3 separate regions of the Homo sapiens genome follow, and all the other regions are linked to region 2. Evidence: fine-mapped expression QTL. A gene starts in region 2. Each other region holds a variant in brackets. All regions are shown on one strand. Distances are from middle to middle. Region 1 overlaps RGS20 (regulator of G protein signaling 20). Region 2 holds the start of RGS20 (regulator of G protein signaling 20). Region 3 overlaps RP1 (RP1 axonemal microtubule associated).

The links.
Region 1: its variant is fine-mapped to the expression of RGS20 in fibroblasts (GTEx, PIP above 0.99).
Region 3: its variant is fine-mapped to the expression of RGS20 in cerebellar hemisphere (GTEx, PIP 0.98).

What each region holds. Positions count from the first base shown.
Region 1 is chr8:53,941,692-53,949,879 of GRCh38, reverse strand. It overlaps RGS20 (regulator of G protein signaling 20), which reads right to left. Exons shown (of 5, transcript NM_003702.5): 3 at 3,132-3,215. Among named protein-coding and RNA genes, the nearest start is that of RGS20, 65 kb to the right of the region's middle. RefSeq lists enhancers at 4,487-4,626, 4,637-4,686, 4,517-4,811, 4,272-5,471 and a silencer at 4,517-4,811. The variant C/T (reference allele first, on the strand shown) is at 4,740.
Region 2 is chr8:53,877,575-53,885,762 of GRCh38, reverse strand. RGS20 (regulator of G protein signaling 20) reads right to left here and starts at 4,891. Exons shown (of 5, transcript NM_003702.5): 1 at 4,679-4,891. The coding sequence starts at 4,747. RefSeq lists enhancers at 1,199-1,248, 3,382-3,451, 3,729-4,360, 4,361-4,992, 5,640-5,934 and silencers at 4,942-5,051, 5,182-5,231, 5,312-5,451.
Region 3 is chr8:54,629,555-54,637,742 of GRCh38, reverse strand. It overlaps RP1 (RP1 axonemal microtubule associated), which reads right to left. Exons shown (of 4, transcript NM_006269.2): 4 at 6,909-8,188. The coding sequence ends at 7,390. Among named protein-coding and RNA genes, the nearest start is that of RP1, 18 kb to the right of the region's middle. RefSeq lists an enhancer at 7,785-8,188. The variant C/T (reference allele first, on the strand shown) is at 5,044.

The DNA.
Region 1 (8,188 bases), 64 kb before region 2:
TGACAGAGCTAGACTCCATCTCAAAAAAAAAAAAGAAATGTGTTAACAGTGTTTACTCTCTTAGAGGTTAGACCACTTTCTTTACTTATATACCATTAAATTTTTGGCAAGCATCTATAGCTTTTTCTTTCTCCCTCTCCCTTTATTGATTGATTGATTGATTGAGGCAGAGTCTTGCTCTGTCTCCTAGGCTGGGGTGCAGTGGTGCAATCTTGGCTCACTGCAACCTCTGCCTCCAGTGTTCAAGCAATTCTCCCTGCCTCAACCTTCCAAACAGCTGGGATTACAGGCGTTTGCCACCACGCCCCGCTAATTTTTGTATTTTAATAGAAAAGGGGTTTCACCATGTCAGCCAGGCTGGTCTCAAACTCCTGACCTCAGGTGATCCGCATGCTTTGACCTTCCAAAGTGCTGGGATTACAGGTGTGAGCCACCGTGCCCACCCACCGTATATTATATAATATACTTTTATTTTTAAAATATAACTGTTTCATGTTTGCTTGAGAAGGATATATATTTTCAAATGTTTAAATCCAAGTTTTTGTAAATGACCAATAAATATATATACTGTATCTTATATATAGTATATATAAATATATACTGTATCTTATATATAGTATATATAAATATATACTGTATCTTATATATAGTATATATAAATATATACTGTATCTTATATAGCATATATAAATATATACTGTATCTTATATAGCATATATAAATATATACTGTATCTTATATAGCATATATAAATATATACTGTATCTTATATAGCATATATAAATATATACTGTATCTTATATAGCATATATAAATATATACTGTATCTTATATAGCATATATAAATATATACTGTATCTTATATAGCATATATAAATATATACTGTATCTTATATAGCATATGTAAATATGTACTGTATCTTATATAGCATATGTAAATATGTACTGTATCTTATATAGCATATGTAAATATGTACTGTATCTTATATAGCATATGTAAATATGTACTGTATCTTATATAGCATATGTAAATATGTACTGTATCTTATATAGCATATGTAAATATGTACTGTATCTTATATAGCATATGTAAATATGTACTGTATCTTATATAGCATATGTAAATATGTACTGTATCTTATATAGCATATGTAAATATGTACTGTATCTTATATAGCATATGTAAATATGTACTGTATCTTATATAGCATATGTAAATATGTACTGTATCTTATATATAGCATATGTAAATATGTACTGTATCATATATAGCATATGTAAATATGTACTGTATCATATATAGCATATGTAAATATGTACTGTATCATATATAGCATATGTAAATATATACTGTATCATATATAGCATATGTAAATATATACTGTATCATATATAGCATATGTAAATATATACTGTATCATATATAGCATATGTAAATATATACTGTATCTTATATATAGCATATGTAAATATATACTGTATCTTATATATAGCATATATAAATATATACTGTGTCTTATATATAGCATATATAAATATATACTGTCTTATATATAGCATATGTATATATACTGTATCATATATCGTATATATAAATATATATACTATAACTTACATATAGTATATATACTATCATATATATAGCATATATAAATATATATACTATCTTATATATAGCATATGTAAATATATATACTATATCATATATATAGCATATATAAATATATATACTATATCATATATATAGCATATATATACTACATCTTATATATAGCATATATATACTACATCTTATATATAGCATATATAAATATATATACTATATCCTACATATAGCATATATACTTATATATAGTATATATACTATCATATATATAGCATATATAAATATATATACTATCTTATATATAGCATATGTAAATATATATACTATATCTTATATATATAGCATATGTAAATATATATACTATATCATATATATAGCATATATATACTACATCTTATATATAGCATATATAAATGTATATACTATATCCTATATATAGCATATATAAATGTATATACTATATCCTATATATAGCATATATAAATGTATATACTATATCCTATATATAGCATATATAAATGTATGTACTATATCCTATATATAGCATATATAAATGTATGTACTATATCCTATATATAGCATATATAAATGTATGTACTATATCCTATATATAGCATATATAAATGTATGTACTATATCCTATATATAGCATATATAAATGTATGTACTATATCCTATATATAGCATATATAAATGTATATACTATATCCTATATAGCATATATAAATGTATATACTATATCCTATATAGCATATATAAATGTATATACTATATCCTATATAGCATATATAAATGTATATACTATATCTTATATATAGCATATATAAATGTATATACTATATCATATATAGCATATATAAATGTACTATATCTTATATATAGCATATATAAATATACTATATCTTATATATAGCATATATAATATATATACTATCTTATATATAGCATATATAATATATATACTATATCTTATATAGCATGTATAAATATATATGCTATATCTTATATAGCATGTATAAATAAATATGCTATATCTTATATAGCATGTATAAATAAATATGCTATATCTTATATAGCGTGTATAAATATGCTATATCTTATATAGAGTGTATAAATATATATACTATATCATATATATAGCATATATAAGTATATATGCTGTATTTTATATATAGTATATATAAATATATATGCTATATCTTATATAAAATTATATGATATACTTTTATTTTTAAAAGTATATTATATAAAAATAAAATAACATAATATGTTTTGTTAGGAAGAATCTATTTGTATTTGCAATTAGCAAAGGGATTAGACTAATAATGGAACTGATTTCTCTCCCTGTCACACGATGAATTAAATGGAATTCTGCAGGGGAGGAATGCGAGGCCACATAATGATTGGATATTACTAAATTACAGTTAGAGAAAGTATGTGTTCTGTTGAAACATACAAGGCAAAGAAAAGAAAGAGGTTAGTATTTCTGTTAGTTTAGTGAGGTAAAAAAAACGTGTGATTTCACCTTTCTTCCCAGGTTGGAAGATCTGCTCTGAGTTCGTGGGAAGCTATTGTGGGCCTCTGATCTTCCTGGTTTCTAACAGTGAGACTGCAAAAAAAAGACATTCACATGTTGACAGCTCAGTCCCTGCCAAGAAAAGATTTTTTACAAATACTTTAAAGAGAACTTCAGATCCCCAAGTATTAATAGAATTTCTTCCTCTACTTGGAAAAAAAAATGACCCCAGTTAGTTTTCCCAAGCAAACCAAAAGTGTGACAATAAGGTACTAGAAATATAAATAAACGTTGTGGTTTCTACTATTGAGAAAGAGTTAGAAATTATTGTGTTCAATTATACTTAGAATAATGATTTTTTAAATAAAAACATTCATTAGAAAATAGTAAAAAAGGGTTCGGCGCGGTGGCTCATGCCTGTAACCCCAGCACTTTGGGAGGCCAAGGCAGGAGGATCACTTGAGGCCAGGAGTTTAAGACCAGCCTGGGCATCATAGCGAGACCCTGTCTCTATTTAATACAAAAATTAAAAAAATGAAAATAGTAAAAAAGTAAGACTGTCAGGAATGTATTGGGGTTTCATTTCATTTTCTGCATCTTAAAAAGTATACATCCTCTAGGCTTTGTTTCCAGTCAAAATGGAGGCTTCATATATTTATAGGCAAATATACAAAAGTAGTAGAGAAAAATAAAGTGCATAATCAAAATCTATTGTATTTCTCTAAAGAGTTTGTTTTCTTATACACATTCTGTACATTTGTCTGTAAACTTATTCCAAGTATTTTTGTTGTTATCGTAAATGGAATTTGTACTTTTATCTCATCTTGTAACTGGTTATTGTTGTAATATGAATGCTATTTTTTTTTTTTTGGAGACCAAGTCTTGCTCTGCTGCCCAGGCTGCAGTGCTGTGGCGCAATCTCAGCTCACTGCAACCAAGCGATTCTTGTGCCTCAGTCTCCTGAGTAGCTGGGACTACAGGCATGTGCCAACACGCCCGGCTACTTTTTGTATTTGGTTTCACCATGTTGGCCAGGCTGGTTTCAAACTCCTAACCTCAAGTGATCCACCCACCTGGACCTCCCAAAGTGCTGGGATTACAGGCATGAGCCACCGTGCCCGGCCACTTTCTTAATCACTTTATTGAGCTATCATTCATATGCCGTCAAGTTTATCTGTTTAAAGTGTACAATTCAGTGGTTTTTAGTATACTCACAAAGTTGTGCAACCATCCCTACTATCTAATTCCAGAACATTGTCATCACCCCCAAAAGAAACCCCACCAGTAAGCAGTCACTGCTTATCACCTGTATCTCCCCACTCTACCGGCCCTAGGCAAGCACGAATCCGCTTCCTGTCTCTATAGATTTGCCTGTTGTGGAGCATACCGTATGTGATCTTTGCTGGCTGTCTCCTTTCACTTGGCGTAATGTTTTTGCACTTAGCCCATGCCGTAGCATGTATCGGCACTTCATTTCTTTTTCCAGTTGAATAATATCTCATTGTTTGGATAGACACATCACATTTCGTTTGTCCATTCATCAGCAGATAGACATTCGGGTTGTTTCCACATTTTGGCTGCATGAATCATGCTGCTATGCACATTCCTGTGCAAGTA[C/T]GTGCGAACATATATTTGTGTTTCTCTCAAGTAGAAACCTCGGAGTAGAACTGCTGAGTCATATGGTAACTTGAGTTTTAACATTTTGAGGAACTCCCAAACTGTTTTACAAGGCAATTGCACCATTTCACATGGTAATATTTGAGGGATCCAATTTCTCCATGTCCTTGCCAACAGTTACTGTTGTCTTTTTTATTCTAGCTTCATAAGTGGGTGAGAAGTGGTATTTCATTGTGGTTTTGATTTGCATCTTGCTAATGACTACTGATGTGGAACATCTTTTCATGCATTTACTAGCTATTTGTACATCTTTGGAGAGATGTGTGTTCAGATGTTTTGACCATTTCTAAATTGATTTATTTGCATTTTATTATTGAAATGGAAGTGTTCTTCATTTTAAGACCTGAAGCCTACAGAGTATTATTTTAATGATAATTTTATATCCTTCTTATTTCTGAATTCTTCTGTATTTGTATCAGTTATAGCTATAATTCTCTTCGGGTTTCATCTGCAAATAGGAAGAATTTTACCTATTTCCAATTCTCAGGCCTCTAATTTTCTTGTCTAATTAGCTAACACCTAAAATACTTTTTTTTTTTTTTTGAGACGGGGTCTTGCTCTGTCTCCCAGGCTGGAGTGCAATGGCGTGATCTCAGCTCCCTACAACCTCCGCCTCCCGGGTTTAAGTGATTCTCCTCCCTCAGCCTCCTGAGTAGCTGGGACTACAGGCGCGCACCACCACACCCAGCTAATTTTTGTATTTTTAGTAGAGACGGGGTTTCACTATGTTGGTCCTGCTGGTCTTGAATTGCTGACCTTGTGATCTGCCCGCCTCGGCCTCCCAAAGTGTTGGGATTACAGGCGTGAGCCATCGCGCCTGGCCAAATACATTGTTAAATAGTAGTAGAGATTGTGGACATTTTGCCTTATTCATGATTTTTGCAGGAATGCTTTCAGCATCCCATCAACATGAAAATGGATTTTATCACTGACAATTTGGGTTTTCTTTATCTTGTTGCTACTGTATTTTCTATATTCTTTATTATATCTTTTCTTAACACTATTTTATAAAAGTTTTTCAGCCTGTTTTTAGCACAACTGTTTTATAAATTTTCAGTGTGTGTGTGTGTGTGTGTGTGTGTGTAGCTCTATTTTTCTTTAAAGGCAAAATCATTAGAAATGCAGGAACCCTTTTGACTTCTTTCTTTCATGATGTCAGGGCTAAATAGTTTCAGTAAATAATGGCTTCTTTAAAAAAAAATCCAACCAAAAAAAACTTGAGAGGCATCTGAGTGGTACGCTCTCTGCATGACTTCCGAGGCTTCTTTTGTAAGCAAAACACATTACTGCTCAGTGGGTATGAAAAAGCAGAGGAAAAAAGAGATGAATTTGACAGGAGTTCCTCAGAGAACCAGAAGCTGTACTGCAAACTAAATAATGCAAACTTATTTCAGCTTTGATATACTTTTTCCCTCATTTCAAGTAAGAATGTTTTAAAGAGACAATGTGGTTTTGAAAAAGAGAAGAATTTTTTTTTGTGAAGTTTTCTTTACCTCGGTCCACTGTTATTGTTACAGCAGACCTAGAAGATGTCTATAGTAGCCAAGATAGTTGCTCGCTGTGTTTTAGGAAGTTTCAGTAAAAGAAGACCCATGGCCAGATATATTTTGGTAAAATTTTGAGTGATAAAGAGAAAACTTACTAGAAAGGAAAAAAACTTTATATTCAACTGAACAAGAATCAGCATGCCTTCCCTTATAACACTAAATACCAGAAGGCCTTACAGCAAAATGTTGAGAAAGATTCACAAGTACTTAGAAAAGAAATTGCCATTTACTTTTCTTGAAAATTGACTTGACTATGTATATTAATATGGATAAATCTCAAAAGTGTGGTGAAAAAAAACAAGGAAATTCACTATTAAAACAGTTGAAGTTTGCTGTGTACTTTTCCCCATCTCATTTCTTCCTCTCTTTACCCTAGAGAGAGCCACCATTTTTAACTTACTGTTTACCATTCCAATTCATAATTATGCTACTATATTATATTCATAAACATATTTTTAAACATAGTATAAATGTAATTATGTAACATGTATTGCTTTATAATTTTTTTTCCCTCTAGCATATGAATTTATTTATTTCTGAGACAAGGTCTCACTCTGTTGCCCAGGCTGGAGTGCAGTAGCATGATCATAGCTCACTGCAGCCTTGAACTCCTGGGTTCAAGTGATCCTTCCACCTCAGCTTCTAGAGTAGCTGGGACTACAGGCACATGCCACCATGCCGGGCTAACTTTTTTTTTTTTTTTTTTTAGTGGAGACATGGTCTCGCTGTGTTGCCCCAGCTGGTCTCGAACTCCTGGGCTCAAACAATCCTTCTGCCTTGGCCTCCCAAAGTGCTGGGATTACAGGCATAAGCCACCACGCCTAACTTATTTATTTGTTTAGTTTTGTTTTTCTAGTATATGAATTTAAGTGCTGTATGGTAGTGGATTGTATAACTATACCACAATATATTCATCCATTCTCCTGTCTATACCCTTTAGAACCATTTTAAATTTTTCTCACTCAGATGAATGCTGTAGTGAATCTTCTCATACATGTCTCCTTTTTTTGCAGGGGTGTGAGAAGTTTTTCCAGGGTATAGGTTTTTCTTTTCTTTTTTTTTTGTTTTTGTTTTTCAGACAGAGTCTCACTCTGTTACACACACTGGAGTGCAATGGCACAATCATCATTCACTGCAGCCTCAACCTCCCTGGGCTCAAGCGATCCTCCCACCTCAGCCTCCTGAGTAGCTGGGACTACAGGTGTGCGCCACCATGCCTGGCTAATTTTTGTGTTTTATTTTTTATTTATTTATTTTTTTGAGATGGAGTTTTGCTCTTGTTGCCCAGGCTGAAGTGCAATGGTGCAATCTCGGCTCACCGAAACCTCTGCCTCCCAGGTTCAAGCGATTCTCCTGCCTCAGCCTCCTGAGTAGCTGGGATTATGGGCATGTGCCCCCATGCCTGACTAATTTTGTATTTTTAGTAGAAACGAGTTTTCTCCATGTTGGTAGGGCTGGTCTCGAACTCCCGACCTCATGTGATCTGCCGGCCTCGGCCTCCCAAAGTGCTGGGATTACAGGCGTGAGCCACCGCACCCAGCTGATCTTTTTTTTAAGGTGGGAATTGATTTTTGTATATGGTGCTATGTAGGAATATAAATACATTTTTATATATTTGGATACCAAGCAGGATGACCAATTTTCCTGGTTTGCCTAGGGTTTTCAGGTTTTCTGGGCTATGGGACCTTTCAGTGCTAAAACTGAGAAAGTCCTATCAGTGGGGATGAGTTGGTACCCAAATACCAAGTATCCTGCTATTTACTGAATAGTTCATTTTCTCCTTTGCTGATGTCACTTTTATCACGTGTTGGTAAGGTTTTCTAGATTTATTGTCTTTCACTG
Region 2 (8,188 bases):
CACTGGAAAAAACCACGGTTTCCTTTTTCAAGGATGCAGGCATAATTCCTAGAAGTACCTCCCCTGGAAGACACACCATCCCTATAAATAACTTTGTAAGACCAGATGTTCACTAGAAAGTCTCTGCCGTATAATTCATTTTTTTTTTTGAGACGGAGTCTCCCTCTGTCGCCCAGACTGGAGTGCAGTGGCGCAATCTCGGGTCACTGCAAGCCCCGCCTCCCAGGTTCATGCCATTCTCCTGCTTCAGCCTCCCGAGTAGCTGGTACTACAGACGCCCGCTAATACGCCCAGCTAATTTTTTGTATTTTTTAGTAGAGACGGGGTTTCACCGCATTAGCCAGGATGGTCTCGATGTCCTGACCTCGTGATCCACCCGCCTCGGCCTCCCAAAGTGCTGGGATTACAGGCGTGAGCCACCGCGCCCGGCCTCTGCTGTATAATTCTTAAACTGTGGATGTGAGGGCTGGACCTTTAAGCCACTATCTGCATCTGTCCATGGAAGGTGAATGTGGTTAGATGCCCACATGCGGAAATAAAAGAACAGCAGGATTTCAGGAATTAATACTTAATGCCTGGAATGAAACCAGTTACAGGCTACTGCATTAAAATAAGAAAGCTTTTCTCTTTTACTCTCGCTAGTCCATAAAATCTAGAATAATAAAATCTCCTTCTGTGTAATTTTGAAGGCGTTTTCTAAAAGGCTTTCTTATAGGAAAGACCTTCAAAGCCAGCTGGAAGGATATTTTAAGAATTCAAGAAAAGCTCAAAAATGATTTCTAAAACTGCTACAGGAGATTAATAGAATATGCAATCAAATGTATACCCAAGTGGGGCCTAAAATGCTAATGCTGGCTCTGACAATAGCTTGATCTGTGACCTTACCTTACCTGAGGCGAGTCATGTGGTCATGTCTTATAATGTGAGGGACCAAGATAAAGCTGTGGGACAACAGTAGCCACGACATGACTGCCTGGTCCTTCTTGGTGCTAGAGATAGCACATGCTCGTACACTTTTTCCTTATTTATACTTTCTATCTGTTAACAGTTCATTAATCCGTAGTAAACAGGAAATCAGCAGTGTGGTGTGTAAGAGCCCTGGGGAATGAGTCAGAAGTCTTCATTCTATTTTGGCCCCTAATTAGCTGGAGATCTCTGGCCCAGACCCTTAACCTCTCTGAATGTTTCCTCATCTGTAAAACGAAGGAGGTAGAATAAGTAACCTGATTTTCATCATTCTGTATTTTTGATATAAGGGGTGTTTCAGCTAAAACGTTTACAGTGATCTCAGACAAGTTAGCACTTCAAGCTCCTAAGGTACATTTTCAGATTCTCTTAAACTGGCTGTTCATCAGCCCTGGCAACACAGCGAGATCCTGTCTCTATAAAAAATTAAAAAATTAGCCAGGTGCGGTGGCAGGCACCTTAAGTCTCAGCTACTCCTGAGGCTGAGGTGGGAGGATCCTTTGAATCTGGGAGTTCAAGGGTGCAGTGGGCCTCAGTCGTGCCACTGCACTCCAGCCTGGGTGAGAGAGTGAGACCCAGCATCAAAAAAAAAAAAAAAAAAAAAAGACTGTTTTTCTAATTTGGATGATGGACATGTGTTTCATTATGCATACTCTTTATAGTATACAAAAATATGCATTCTGTTACTGATCTTATTTATAGTTTGAAGTCTAGCCAATTTAGCATCAATATAATAATAGTAATAACAGCTTTTGCTTGGTATGTGCCATCCCGTTATAAGAGCTCTATGTTATTAATTTACTGAATGCTGTCAGCTAGCACATTAGGTAGATACTCTTTTTTTTTTTTTGAGACGGAGTTTTGCTCTTGTTGCCCAGGCTGGAGTGCAGTGGCTCCATCTCGGCTCACTGCAACCTCTGCCTCCTGAGTTCAAGCAATTCTCCTGCCTCAGCCCCCAGAGTAACTGGGATTACAGGCGCCAGCAACCACACCCGGCTAATTTTTTGTATTTTTAGTAGAGATGGGGTTTCACCATGTTGGCCAGGCTGGCCTAGAACTCCTGACCTCACGTGATCCACCTGCCTCGGCCTCCCAAAGTGCTGAGATTACAGGAGTGAGCCACCGTGCTCTGCTGAGCTGCCGAGGTAGGTGCTCTTATTACCCCCATTTCACAGATGATGAAACTAACGCCCAGAGAGGATAAGTAACTAGTCCAAGTTTATGCAGTTAGGTTGGGATCTGAACCCAGTTACAGAGCTCAAGACTCCCACTGGTTTGGCAACACTGCCTCTCATATGCGTTACTAATACGTGATAAGAAAGATGTCACTTATGGCCAGGCGCAGTGGCTCACTCCTGTAATCCCAGAACTTTGGGAGGCGGAGGCAGGCGGATCACCTGAGGCCGGGAGTTCAAGACCAGCCTGACCAACATGGAGAAACCCCGTCTCCACTAAAAATACAAAAAATTAGCCGGGAGTGGTGGCGCATGCCTGTAATCCCAGCCCCAGCTACTTGGGAGGCTGAGGCAGGAAAATCTCTTGAACCCAGGAGGCGGAGGTTGCAGTGAGCCGAGATCGCGCCATTGCACTCCAGCCTGGGCCACAAGAGCGAAACTCAGTCTCAAAGAAAAAAAAAAAAGAAAGAAAGATGTCACTTAACGAACAGAAGATAAACAGGATGAGACCCCCAAAAAAATTAGGTTTGGAGAAAAAATATTTTAACAAAAATAGTAAATTGCAAACTATGGTTGTGCCAAAAAACTTACAGATAGAGTAATTTCACTAGAAATGTCCTTGTCAAGTTTGGGGCGGAAGTCAGACCGTTTTGCGAATTTGAACATTTGTTTAGTCAATTCCACGGTTTGGAGCCACTAGGGATGAAATGAAGCCAAGCCACGCCAGGGCCCTGCCACTTGTGTCCCAAGGAGGGTGGCTGGAGACTGATGCAGAAGCCCCTTCCTCCCCACACTCCGGGGCAATGAGGAGCCCGCGTGCAGGTGCCTAATTCCGCTAGCCAGTGGGCGAGGGTCCTGCTGGCACCGAGGGCACCAAGGCTGGGGTTTTGACACCAACGAACCCCAGCCAGGTGACTGGGGAACGTGGGGAGTTCGACAAAGAGCGATAGGCTTTTGCCATTTTTTTTTTTTTTTTTTGAGACGGAGTCTTGCTCTGTCGCCCAGGCCGGAGGGCAGTGGCGCGAGCTTTTGCCAAGTTACGAGACGGACAGGAATCGAGGAGATTCCCCTGTAGCGCTCTCCACCTTCCGGACAGAAATCCTGTAGACCACGTTCACTTCTCCACTCCGTGCATCGCCCGTGGCCCGTGGGCAGCAGCTGCTCCCCTGGGATCCCCCTCGCCTGTCCGCGAGCTCTCGCACGGCCGCGTCCCTGCTGCTGGGGTCGCTCGCTGGCCCTGGCTGCTCGCCAGGATTTTCCTTTGATGCTGTCAAGTCCGGGAAGCTCACGATGCACCTCAGTGCCCGCGCGCCGCCTCTCCCAAAGCCCCTTCCCCACTCACTCCCCCACAAGCGTGGAGGGAGATGGGGTAGGTCGCGGCGCCTATAGACCCCCTCCCGGCGCCCACTCTCTCTCTTCCACTTCTCTAGCAGCGGTAGGGCCGCAGCGCACGCAAACCTTTCCCCAAAACGCCCACCCCACTCTCAGCTAGCCGCTTCTCTCAGGGCTCCTCCGCCCGAGCTGGGTGTGGGGATCGCCGCGCACACAGAGACGGGAAAGCCACCCCGGTCCCGGAGCGCCGCTTCCCTAGAGGCCCCTGGCCCGTCCGCTCCCCCAGCGCTGGAGGACAGCCGCGCACACAGACCCTCCCCTCCAACGCCCACCGCGGTCCCCAGCTGCAGCCTGCACCTCCACTTCCCGCCCCCAGTCTCCCGCCCTCCGCCCCCTGCTTTCCAGTCTCCGCAGTCCGGGCGCCCAGACTTGTTTCGACTTCCCAGGGCAGCTCCGAGGGTGCGGAAGATCAAGTGCCCGGGTTTGTTCCAGGAAAATCCCGGCGGCGCCTGCACGTTAACTGCCCTGGCGCAGGCGAAGGGTGGAGGGCACTTCTCTGTTCATTCGGTTTTCAAGAGCGTGAACAGAGGCTCCGAGTGAACGCCCATACCTAGTCGGTCTTCTAGGGTCCACGCGTGGGGCGTCCACTTCCTCACCCTGCCCCTCGGTGCCCCTGCCCTGGTTGCACTTCTCCTAAAAGGAGGCGCTACGATTCCAGGAGGCTCTGTCTCCTTACCCTTCCCAGCGGCGCTCAAACCACCAGCCCCGGGCGCCCAACCCCTTCCTTGTCCTCTCCCTATCCCGTGAGAAAGCCGACGCTTCCACCCGCCTGGTCTTTCCGAAATACGCTTCGGGTGGTCAATGCGATTTCTAGGGTCTAAAGACTAGACTCCCGCGTTCCCCACCAAGACACCGACGCGAAGCCGCAGAGGTGGAATCGCGGACGCCCTGGCAGGCCCGGGACATATTGATCCTGGTGGCGCGATGCCCCTCTTCGCACGCGGACGCACTCGCAGCCCCACTCCCCCAAACTCGCACTGCGGGAAGGAACCCCCGACTCGCACCGGCTCCCGCCCCGCAGCAACGGCGACACCCTGAGGTCCGGACGAGCGGCGCGCCCCTCCCAGCCTCGGCCACTTTCCAGCACGAAGCCTCAGGGCGAGCCCGAGACGAAGAAAGAGAGTTCGAGGAACTGGGATACTCACGAGCCCACCGTCCACCCTGCCGGCCGGGGAGGAAGCCCCGGCCGGCTCGCCTCCGTCCGCCGTGCGCATGCGTCCCGCGGGTGCCTTCTCAATATTGCAGCGCGGAGGGCTGCCCTCTCTACGTCGGCGATTGCTCACCGCGCCTTTCGCCTTTCTCCGGCTCTCGGTCTTTGCTCTAGCCCTCTTCTCCCGGCCTCTTCCTCCCCTTGCTCTGCCTCCTCCCCGCCCCCTCACTCCTTTTACCCGGCCGGGCAATCCCACGTCTCGCCTCCCTCCAGCGGCGGCGCACTCCACCGCCGCGGGTGCTAGGGGTACCCCCGAGGCCCCACGCGGGGCGCGACCTCCACCCCGGCCGCAGCCCCACTGCTCCAGCCCCGCATTAGCAAGTCCCAAGAGTGTGGATGCGAAGCCAGGCGCGCGTAGAGGGCGTCCGCGAAGCCCTCTGTGTCATCGCCTCCCCTCGGCGCGCGGGGCCGAGCGAGACTAGAGTGTGCTGGACTGCGTGCTCGGACCTCGTGAATGAAGGGAGCGGGAGGAAGGAGCGGGGGTGGGCGGCAGGCATGGAGGGGGCGCTTGGTCCCCAGAGCTTCGCGTCTGTGGACTGCGCGTCTCTGGAGGGCAGCCCCCTACCTTCTCCCCGGCCCGGGGCGCCTCTCTGAGCTCTGTCCCCGCCCCACCCCGGCGCAGCCTAGGCCTCCGGTCTTCCCGCCCTGGAAAGCGGCCCTCGCCCCCTCCCAGCTAGCCAGAGCGCGGAGGCCCCACCCAGCAACCGAGCGGGGGATAAGGGGGGGAACTAACCCCTGACTCCAGATCCCGCTGAGACCCTCGGCAGTCGCCCTCCGCGTCCCCTTCTCCAGGGACTCCGGAGTCCGGGGAAAGGAGTAGACCAGGGGGCAGCGGGAGGGGGAACCCAGCCGCCCAGCTCTCCGGACTCGCAGCACCGCGTGTCCCCGTAGCCCGCAGCGTCCCTTCGGGAGTGGGACCCGGTGGGGCCGCGGGGTTAGTTCCCTGGAGCCCGGAGGGCTAAGCTGAAGCTGGAAACTGACCTGACACAAAAATAACATCACGTCATTTCCTCCCTTGCCTGCCGAGAGGGCAGGGGAGTGGGAGAGCGAGCGCTGGGAGCAGGCGGAGGCGCGTTTGGGGGAGGCTCGGAGTAGGCGGAGGAGAGCGACACGCTGAGAGTTTGAAAGGCAGCCTCGGGGAAGAGCGAGGGCTCCCTCCCGTTTTCTTGGACCATGGAAAGGAAATGGCCCAGGAAAAAGTAGCTTGGAGTGTCTTCCCGCGGGGAGGGGCGGTGTCCCGGGAGCCGCCAATGTCCCGTCCTAGGACTTGCCCAGCCACGTCCCGGCCTTCCCGACCTTGCCACCCTCCCTACTGCTAGCCCCAGCGGAGCGGGTCAGTTGGGGTTAGGAAGAATCGGGAGAGGCTGGTGTCCTGGGGAGGCTGGGTGTGGGGCGTAGTGGAGACCACGGTACTCACCGGCATAGGCGAGCTCTGCCCAGCGGTGGCGTCTTCTTCCCTGGGCTTGGCTACCGGATGGGGGGGCCTCAGCGGACGACCCCCCGAGGGTCGGCCGGGCAGTGCCAGCGCCGCCCCGAGCAGGAGCGAGAGGCGGCCCGGCAGCTCCTCGTGCCCCCTCGAGAGCCGGGCGGCCGGCAGGGCGGGAAGCAGGGGGGAGAAGTCCAGGCGCCTCCGGGGAGCCTCGGGAGGGGGTCGCCGGAGAAGGTGAGAGAAGAACCTTGCGAGGCTGGAAAGCGGGCTAGAAAGGAGGCCGAACAGCTTCGGGGCGGCGGGCGAGTCTGGGAGCTGTGCAGGCGGGAAGGACTGGGGTGGGGAGAGAGAAACAAAACCAGCATACGGTTACTGTGGTGTCCGGCCGCTTAGATGGGGCTCTTTACTACAGAATTTTGAAGCGTTACTTTGGGGGTGCAAGAGAAGGTCGGTGAAAGCAGAAGGAAAGGCCTATAGTTAGATTCTTTCCCCTCCCACTCCTGTATTTCCTAACTCCGTGCTACTTGAAGTGTGGTCCGTAGGCCAGCAGCTTCGCCAACACCTAGGAGCTTGTTAGAAATAAAGACTCTTGAGCCCCACCCAGCCAATGCATCGGAATCTGCATGGTAACATTCCCAGGGGACTACCATGCGCGCTGAATGTGACATGCGGTATGCAGAAGGGTCTGTGTTCACATCGCCTGGTTCTTCAGAATTTGGATGAAAATCTTAGTTCACTTTTGTAACTGTTGCTCTTCCCCTCCCTTCTCTGGTCTTCCCTTGTTCCCCCTGCCCTTTCCCATCTCCCTAAGTGCCCAGGGCTCTGCCTGCCAGAGGCACAGAGTTGGCCTTGGCTACTAGATTCTATTGGGATTGTTGTCTATGGAAGGTCCAGATAGTGGCTGAAGGTGGCTGAAGGGCCTCAGACCCTCCACAGGCTGGTTGGAAAAAGGGACTGGCCAGTGCGGCTGTAGGTATGTTGCGTGGAGCTGGGGACACCGGGATTCCATGTTAGGGCTGCTACTACAAGTGAACCCTCTGCAGACCTCCTTTCCAAACTCCATGTGTCCTTCTTATTCCCGGGAACACCGGCCTTTCCACCTTCCACTTGTTGCTTAGGAGACCTAAGCAATGAGATATTTTTTTTCTTTTGGAAAGTGGAGGGAAGCACTAGTTTAGAAGTCAGAAACCCACGGTTCTACACTCAACCTTGCCACTAACTTAATGGCTAACCTTGGGAATGTCTCTTTATTTTTTGAGTTCATTTATAAAGGGGTTGAACTCAGTGGCTTTTTAAGGTCACCTGCCACGTTCAGACTGTCATCTTTGAGACGCTCTTAGTTTCTTGGTACACTAACGTTTAGTGTAGTTACAAACCGGAATGTAGCTCGGCCAATCCAAACACCCCCTCATGCCAAACAAAAAACAATTTAATCTGTCTGTGAAAAACAAGAGCGGTGGTTGCCAAAAAAAATGAAGGTGGAGGCGGGAAGCAGCGAATAAAGTGCTGGGGTGGTGAGGCGCGGGAGGCGAGCGCGGGTGTTCTGGGTTGGGCGTGGGTCCCAGGGGCGCGGCGGCCGCTCTCCAGGGTCCTGAAGGCGGGAGCGGTCGCGAGCGGCCTCGTGGGCCTGGCGCGGTTCCCTCACTCCGCAGTCACCAGGCCCGGCCTGTATTCTTTCGGCGGTGGAAGTCTTGTGGGAAGCGATTGTCAGGAGAGAGGGAAGGAAACCTAGCAACCCATTCTCATTCATGAGGCCCTTTCTGGGAAGCCGCGAGTGCGGTGGCTGATTTGTCTTGCTGTCGTTTGTTTGCTCCTGGGTGAGTTGAACTCGGTTTGCATTTCCGAGTAAGTTCACACTGTTTCACTTCCCCTCATTACCTTTTCCTGGAGAATGGGGTCGTTCTCCCAGTATTTTCATTCTCCTCGTTCAGCTGCTCCCCTCCCCCGCTCTCTGGCAAGGTGCTTTTATTTTAGGGGCTGGAGCTGGGAGCCGAGGAGGCTTCTGGAGAAGCGCCA
Region 3 (8,188 bases), 750 kb before region 2:
ACATATTTACATGGTTATTAATGAAAGCCCTGTAATTTAATAAAAAAAATTATATTGGCAGAGATATGAAGTGGGAGGCTGAAGGTGAAATGTCAATACACAAAATCTAAAATTGAAAAAAAAAGCAGTATGTCTCTAAATACAGAAATAAACAGCAGAAAAACAGCTAAATATTTTCAAGAAAGATGCCTCTGGAGTGGGAATTAGGCATGTACAGGGTCAGAAAGTGGTCTATTTTTTATTTTGAGCTATGCACTTCTGATTAAAACTAGTTATAAATGTATAACTTTGATAAGAAATAAAAATGCAAATGGAAGAGTTCACCATTGAAAAAGTAAAACTTCTATGCTGGATAGCCTGCCAGTGCAGGTCTACTGTGTGGTTCTGGCTCTTAATGCCTAGGTGGTCAGCTGTATGCAGAGACTTGTCCAGCTAGGCACTCACTGTGGACCCCTTTCCTAACCCACTCAGGACCACCCAGGAGTTCAATCAGTCCTATCGAGCTATTACATAGCACTCTACATACTTTGACATTTCATGACAACCAGATATTTCATGAGACTCTATCTGTTGATCCAGATGAGGTCCACAAGTTCCTAGCAGGATACCGAACAGGGCATACAAGGCTAACCTCAACATCAACCTGCTGAAGGAAGAGCACCAGACAATCTCCATAATGCTATGCTACACCATGCCTCCTGGAAGGGTGACAGGACAGAGCCCATTGTGCAGACTGGTGCAAACTAATAGGTGAACAGGGAGAAAGTAAGCAAAGGCATAAAATAACAAATCTAGAGAACTTTCTCTTGGTCCTAGTTATTCTTCATATAATGTCTTTTTGACTGAGAATTTCCACTAACAGACCTATATTGAAATATATGTCTAAAACAAACTCCAATGTCATTTAAATGACATGAAATTATTCTTTTGGATTCTCTATACCACATCCATGAGAATAAATGGGATACATATGTATGCAAGTGTGTTTTTTGTTTTTGTTTTTTGAGAGGGAGTTTTGCTCTTGCCGCCCAGGCTGGGGTACAGTGGCGTAATCTCAGCTCACTGCTACCTCCACCTACCGGGTTCAAGAGACTCTCCTGCCTCAGCCTCCCGAGTAGCTAGGATTACAGGCGCCCACGACCAGGCCCAGCTAATTTTTATATTTTTAGTAAAGAACGGGTTTCACCATGTTGGCCAGGCTGGTCTTGAACTCCTGACCTCAGGTGATCCACCTGCCTTGGCCTCCCAAAGTGCTGGGATTACAGGCGTGAGCCACCATGCACAGCCAACTGTTGTGATTTTTATGATGGTTTCTTTCTAATTTGGTCTTGAGGTTTTTCTTGAGAGTGGCCATAAGCTCCAGCCTTGCCCTTGCCAGAAATTCAAAGGATTTTGTTGTGGATGTTGACAGTGCGCCTTCCATGGGATGCCTCTTTATCCTGAAGGATGCCTATTGCCTAAGTGTCTGACCCATGACTAGGTGTCCCTCTCACAACAAACTGTTTTTTCAGGCAGACACCCTTGTGGGTCTTGCCTGACCTGTATCCAGATTATTCCTGTCAAGACAGCCACTCTCTAAGATAGCTCTGACCAAAAAGAAGGCTACGTTAAGAGCATCTATGCCAAATGAGACACAATGAAGTGAAATGGAAATGCGCAAAACATAAGTGTTTATTATTCACAGTTCCCAGAAAGGTTAGGGGTGCCAACAGAAAGAGGCAGCAGGGAGCTCAATCAGCAAGGGGTCAGTGGGGAGGAGAGGAAGAGGGAGAAAGGGAAGGAGGGAGGTTGTGAGACAGAACTTTTGGGAGAGAGGGACGGGGAAATCTCTGGGACTGTGTATGCCTTTATTAAGCTCTGTGGACATTATCCCTTAGGCTTTCTTGTGGGGGTTGTAGATGGGCTAATTTAAAGAAATAAGTTCCCCTCTTCCCTCCTGAAGGGGTGAACCTATTTATGTGACTCTGGTGTTGACCGTTACATTTTATCACGTTCAATAGCTGTGGGGTGTGTTGGGTTTTGGGTCAAAGAAGTGAGGAACAAATAAGCCATACGGCAAACAACTACACGGGAAAGTAAGCTTTTAACTAAGCCAAAGGTGACAAAGTAGGACTAAATTTCAAATATTATGTCAATCCTAAAAATGGATGCTGAGGCAGCAACTACATTAAATAAACTTATAAATATATATATGAATATTCATATATATGAACATAAATATAGTGTTTAGCTTTGTATCACCCATTTCTCACTAACCACTTTCACTCTCAATATAATGAATTCCTGTGATGTACAAGTCATGTTTTCCCATGAACCTACCATCCTATCTTAATTTACTTGGTTGTATTGATTCACCTGAGCTTTAAGCAGTCTTACGTAAGTAGTAGTCTGTAGACTGCAGCCATTTATCAACATTAGTGTTACAGAAGAAAAGAACTATTCTCAAGATGAAAAGCAGCTAAATGATTTCTACTCCATTGACCTTTGTTTTTTGTTCTTGCTGTTACTGATTGTTATGATAATCTGTGTATGAATCAAAAAGTAAACATTAATATATGAAATATCTATGCATAGAGAAAAGGCTCATGTGTATATCCTTTAGAAAGAATTCCCATTGATAAAAAAATAATCATTGTATATTACATCTTTTTTTTTTTTTTTGAGATGGAGTCTCGCTCTGTTGCCCAGGCTGGAGTGCAGTGGCACCATCTCGGCTCACTGCAAGCTCCGCCTCCTGGGTTCATGCCATTCTCCTGCCTCAGCCTCCCGAGTAGCTGGGACTACAGGTGCCCACCACCAAACCTGGCTAATTTTTTTGTATTTTTAGTAGAGATGGAGTTTCAACGTGTTCGCCAGGATGGTCTCGATCTCTTGACCTCGTGATCCGCCCACCTTGGCCTCCCAAAGTGCTGGGATTACAGGTGTGAGCCACTGCGCCCAGCCCATTGTATATTACATCTAAAGTCCATGATGGGAATTGTTTACTAATTTTTGTCTAGAACAAGATGAACGTATCTTCTCTAAACCATCAAACATAGTACTTGTCTCTGTTTGAAGGTTTGCTGTTTTGTTGCTTAATTTTCAAAAGCTTTTTGGTCATACATTCTTTGCCATGACTTGGGAATAGTCCCTTAATAACTTAGCACTTAAGTTACTGGAAGATAAACCCTTTTAGGAAAAAAACTGTGAAATACCTTGAAATGGACAAAAAAGAAATTACTAAGTGCCTTATCAAGCCCTCTTGGGGTTATCTCTGTTTTTTCATTATCTTTAAATTATCTGATAATCCTGCAAATTGTAAAAACACAGATAATGCAAACTATTCTTGTCCATAGAAATATAAATTGGTGGTGTCCAGGGAATGTAATTTTTGTCCTGGACAGACCCAAATTCATTTCAGCATTTCTTATTGCTTATTTTTAGTGATACTTTAAATTCTTCCTTCAGCCCATTGTATATGTTAATAATTCCCTATGTAATTTGTAAGTTAAATACAATCTTTGGCACATGGTCATGTTATATCTATATGGAATTCATGATTTTGCTTTTAAAAACAATTATCCTTTAATACCTTAATGGACAAGAGCGTAGAATAGTAGGAAAAATGGTAAGTACTTTGGATTAAAAGAACCCTGGGCAGTAATGGAATCCTTCTTAACCTCAATAAACAGGGAATAGAAAGTCATTTTGTTTTCAGGGTAGATCTGTACATAGAGTATCAAACCACAAAACTCAGGACTTTTTATGAGAATCGAATACAGATATTAAAGTAAAAGTGCTTCTTTACTAGCCTCTGTGAGTTTTAGTCCCCTTCCTGCTACATTAAAGGTACTGTTACCCATCGAGAGGGTTCTCGTGAGGACTAAGATAATACACATAAAGAACTTAGCCCAATATTTGGCACAGAGCAGGGGCTCAAACTGTTTGTCACCTTCACTTTTGTGAAGGGCTATATGACTAAATGTTGAAAATATTACATTTCATATATATATATATATATATATAGAGAGAGAGAGAGAGAGAGAGAGAGAGGCACAAAATAAAGCTAAAATACATCTTGGTCAGAAGAACACCAACTTTGAAAAGTGTATCAAACGTATTCACACTAATGGCTTTTTAAAGAAAAATAGCTAAAACATGTTTAACACTGTGTGCCAAACTCTGTGCTAAGAGTTTTACAAGTATTTTCTCTAGTGATCCTCTCACAACCACCTTATAAGGTAGCTCTTCATAAGAACTTTAATGAGTGCCACAAATATGGAATGTAGTTTCAATACCTCAGTTTACACTCTGAAAAATGAGGCATGTTTTGTGCCACTGAAAAGTTACATTATAATATTTGAAAGTGTCATGTAAAAATTACCCCTATCCACTGAACCAATAGCTCATTAACTTAGTTTCAGCTTGAATTAGGGAATTTTGTTGGGTCCCATAGTCCCCAAATTGGGCTTTCCTTGGAATCAACTCTGATGATTCTTGACAGCTGGCATTTTTGAGTGCCTCTACTTTTGAACTTCTGCTCCTTGCTACTAAATATACTAATAGTATATTTATTTTAATTCTGAACACTGCTGCTTCTTCCGGGTTTAATATTTGGGGGATGCCTGCACAGTTGGGCATTCAGCTTTCTTTGAAGCAGAAGCAGGAAGCTCAGAGACTGCCCCAATGCTTAAAGCATTGCCTTTATCCATGCAAGCCTCTCAGAGTGCCTGAACTTTTGGCAGCGCATAGCACAGCTGCCATCTGGTGGGCAAAACACAATAATTTCACCACTCCACCTTGGGACCAGAGACTGAATTCTACATATCTTCCCCTGAGTAAGGGAGGCTACACTTCCATACTCAGCCCTTCAGGTACTTCATCTCTAAAGCAAAAGCTAGCTCTCTATAATATCCTTAAATTTCCTCTAAAGTTTCACTTACTCTTCTAAATTTCACAGTGTGACAAGATTTTTTAAATATAAATCTTGCAAAACTAAAAACATGCTTTGAATGCTTAAAAGAAAAAATCATCTTTACAGACATTTTAAGGATAACTAAAATA[C/T]TGCTTTCGTAAAATATAAAAAAACTAAAAAAAATACAAAAAACTGAGTTCTATCCTTCAGCATATTTGCACATCCTTCTACATGTATGGATCTGAAATTAGTAAGAGGTAAAGAAAAATTAAATGCCTTCAAATGCACTTCTTATCCATTTAACACACATTTATTAGGTACTTACCATGTACCAAGTACGAAGCTAGCTCTGTGAATAAGATGTGGCCCAAGATCTCAGAATTCAATGCATGTGAACACGTTCACTTTAAAGAAGTATGTTTAAAGAAGAAGTATGTTACACAGTCCCATGCATTACTAATTCATGGTTGTCACTCCAGCTTCTCCCAATTATGATGCATGAAGGACACTGTTTGGTGTAATAGTATTGCCAAAAACTACATACTGCATGCCATATTTCTTGAAACCTCCTGGTTTTTATAAATGATTTCCTCAATCTTCTTGGGTATATCTATATTTCACACCTTCCAAATTAAAAAGAAAAATTCTTTCCTTGTCTCCCTGCACTAGAGAATGAGTGGTAATTTTTTTTTAAATATCTTATCCCTGGCTGGGCGCGGTGGCTCACACCTGTAATCCCAGCACTTTGGGAGGCCGAGGCGGGCGGATCACCTGAGGTCGGAAGTTCAAGAACAGCCTAACCAACATGGAGAAACCCCGTCTCTACTAAAAATACAAAAATTAGCCAGGTGTGGTGGTGCATGCCTGTAATCCCAGCTACTTGGGAGGCTGAGGCAGGAGAATCACCTGAACCCAGGAGGCAGGGGTTGCGGTGAGCCGAGATCGCACCATTGCACTCCAGCCTGGGCAACAAGAGCGAAACTCTGTCTCAAAAAAAAAAAAATCTTATCCCTTCTTCCTCACATGAAAACAATGATAAAAATGTAGGATGCCCAGCGCAGTGGCGTGTGCCTGCAGTCCCACCTACTTGAGAAGCTGAGGATGGAGGATCATTTGAGCCCAGGAGTTCAAAACCAGCCTGTGAAACATACTGAGAATCAGCTTTAAAAAAAAAAAAGTAGTAAAAAGAGCATTGATTTTCAAGCACAAAGAACTGGGTTCAAATCCTGGCATGATACCCTACTGTAAACCAGTCATGAAAGTCCTTTACCTTTTGCTCCTAACTTCTCTACTTAAAAAAAAAAAAAATGCAGGGGAAGTAATAAAGCCACATTCACAGTGCTTTTATGAGGAAGAATTACACACAAAAAGCCTGCAGGTGTACCACAGTCCCTGGTACACAGTAGGCACAAAATTAATGTAAATTATTTTCTCCTTTCTATTTTTTCTCCAAAACTTTGTGCCCTTTCATTCACTACAATTTCTCATTGCTTACTACAGAAACTTACATAACATTATAGCTTCCATATTTTCACTAAAAGAAAGCATCACTTAATGTTTTTTTAAAAAGCATACTCTACATAGAAGTAGTCTCCAGCTGATGAAGTAGCAATTCATAATTTTTATGAATTTATGACTCATGCTGAACTGACACCAACATTATTCTTGATGTAATTAATTTAATTACCTTTTGTTCCTCAATGCCAAATTTATGTTATTTTAGCATCTCCATGTGTGGCTCCAAAAATACTGATCATTCTAATTTGAGTTAGTTGTAGACAAGAGGCATAGATTTCCAAGTTTCCTAAGACTTGTTTCTATATCATCATATAGTCATGCAGTGGAAGGACTCTTAAAAGCTTTCCTGGTTAACTCCTGGGAAATACACCACAATTATTCAAACCAATTGATACTTGATAGTCTAGTCTATTAGAAAAACACTAAATCCTGTCCCATGGAAATGCTTGCAATTTCACTGGATATTCTGAGGAACTGGACTCAACATATTTGGCACAAGAAACTATGAGATTGTCGTGGATATCTTATAATCATACTTTTTATCAAATCAGTAGTTAAAAAGAATAAGTGAAGTACTTTGAGGTTATGTCTATTCAATTTATTCACCAATACAGTCAATATACATTTTACACCAAGCTAACAACATTTTTTAAAAAGGATATAATTCTTGTCCTTAGCACATTTTGATGCCCTGAGCAAAAAAAATCATAGATACCAAAAAAAAAAAAAATGTAAGTTCAGAACAAAACCAGATAGAAACTTCCAAAATAAGAGAACCTGAGTCTGTAATTGTTGGAAAAACAAAAAACAGAGACATTATGAAAGTCAAACTGGTTATCCAAGGGTAAGCTTTCTAGAGTAAGTTCATTTTGAAGAAGTGGAAAATTCTTAGAGGTTATCTAGTCCGTATTCGTCACATGTGCTTCATCTCATGGGAAAAAATGAATTGACAAAGAATGAGTGTGCTGATATTGAAATTATAAATCTTCTTGTTCTCTACTGCTTTCAAGATCAGTTAAATTTAATATGTCTTCCTCTTCCCAAATGAAAAGATTTTCACCCTCAAACATACAAAGTTCTAAAATATTTCTGTTGCTAATATTTAAGGAGGTCTCAACTTGGCAAATATCTAAGAGGCAAGCTTGACCAAGCATTTCAAAGAAGTAATGACAGTTGATATTTTCTCTTACTACTTGGTTGAGATTTGTTCTTGAGCCCTGGAATCTGTTATTTAATAAGTTGTTATTCTCATCGACTGCTTTAAAGATTTCATTTGTCTGACCGCTGAGGTCTTGTGTATTTGAATCCACATTACCCACAACTAACAATGATGTGTGCAAGAAATTCATACAAAACCTTTCCTTCAAATCTGGTTGAAATTTCTTTAAATTACCTTCTTCCTCTAACCCCAAGAAGTTAATTCTTTTTTGTTTTCTTCTTTTACCCATCAAGTCAAATGTGTTACTGAAATAAAACTGATCAAATATATCACCAATGGCATTATCAATAAGATTTTGTCTCATACTTGCTTTATTGTTCTCTTCCCTGAACACATTTTTGTCTGTCTGAAGTAAATATGGGTGTATTTTCATCCATAAATAAAAACCCAAGAAATTTTCAATATCAGATTCTTTGCGATATGCAAATCCTCGGTCTTCCTCATTCATGGGTTGGATAATAACAGTTAGTATTGGGCAATGTTGACCACAAAGAGCATACAGTTTATCCAAAGAGTCAGCTTCCTGAAGTGTACCATGAATCATATTACTGCCAGGC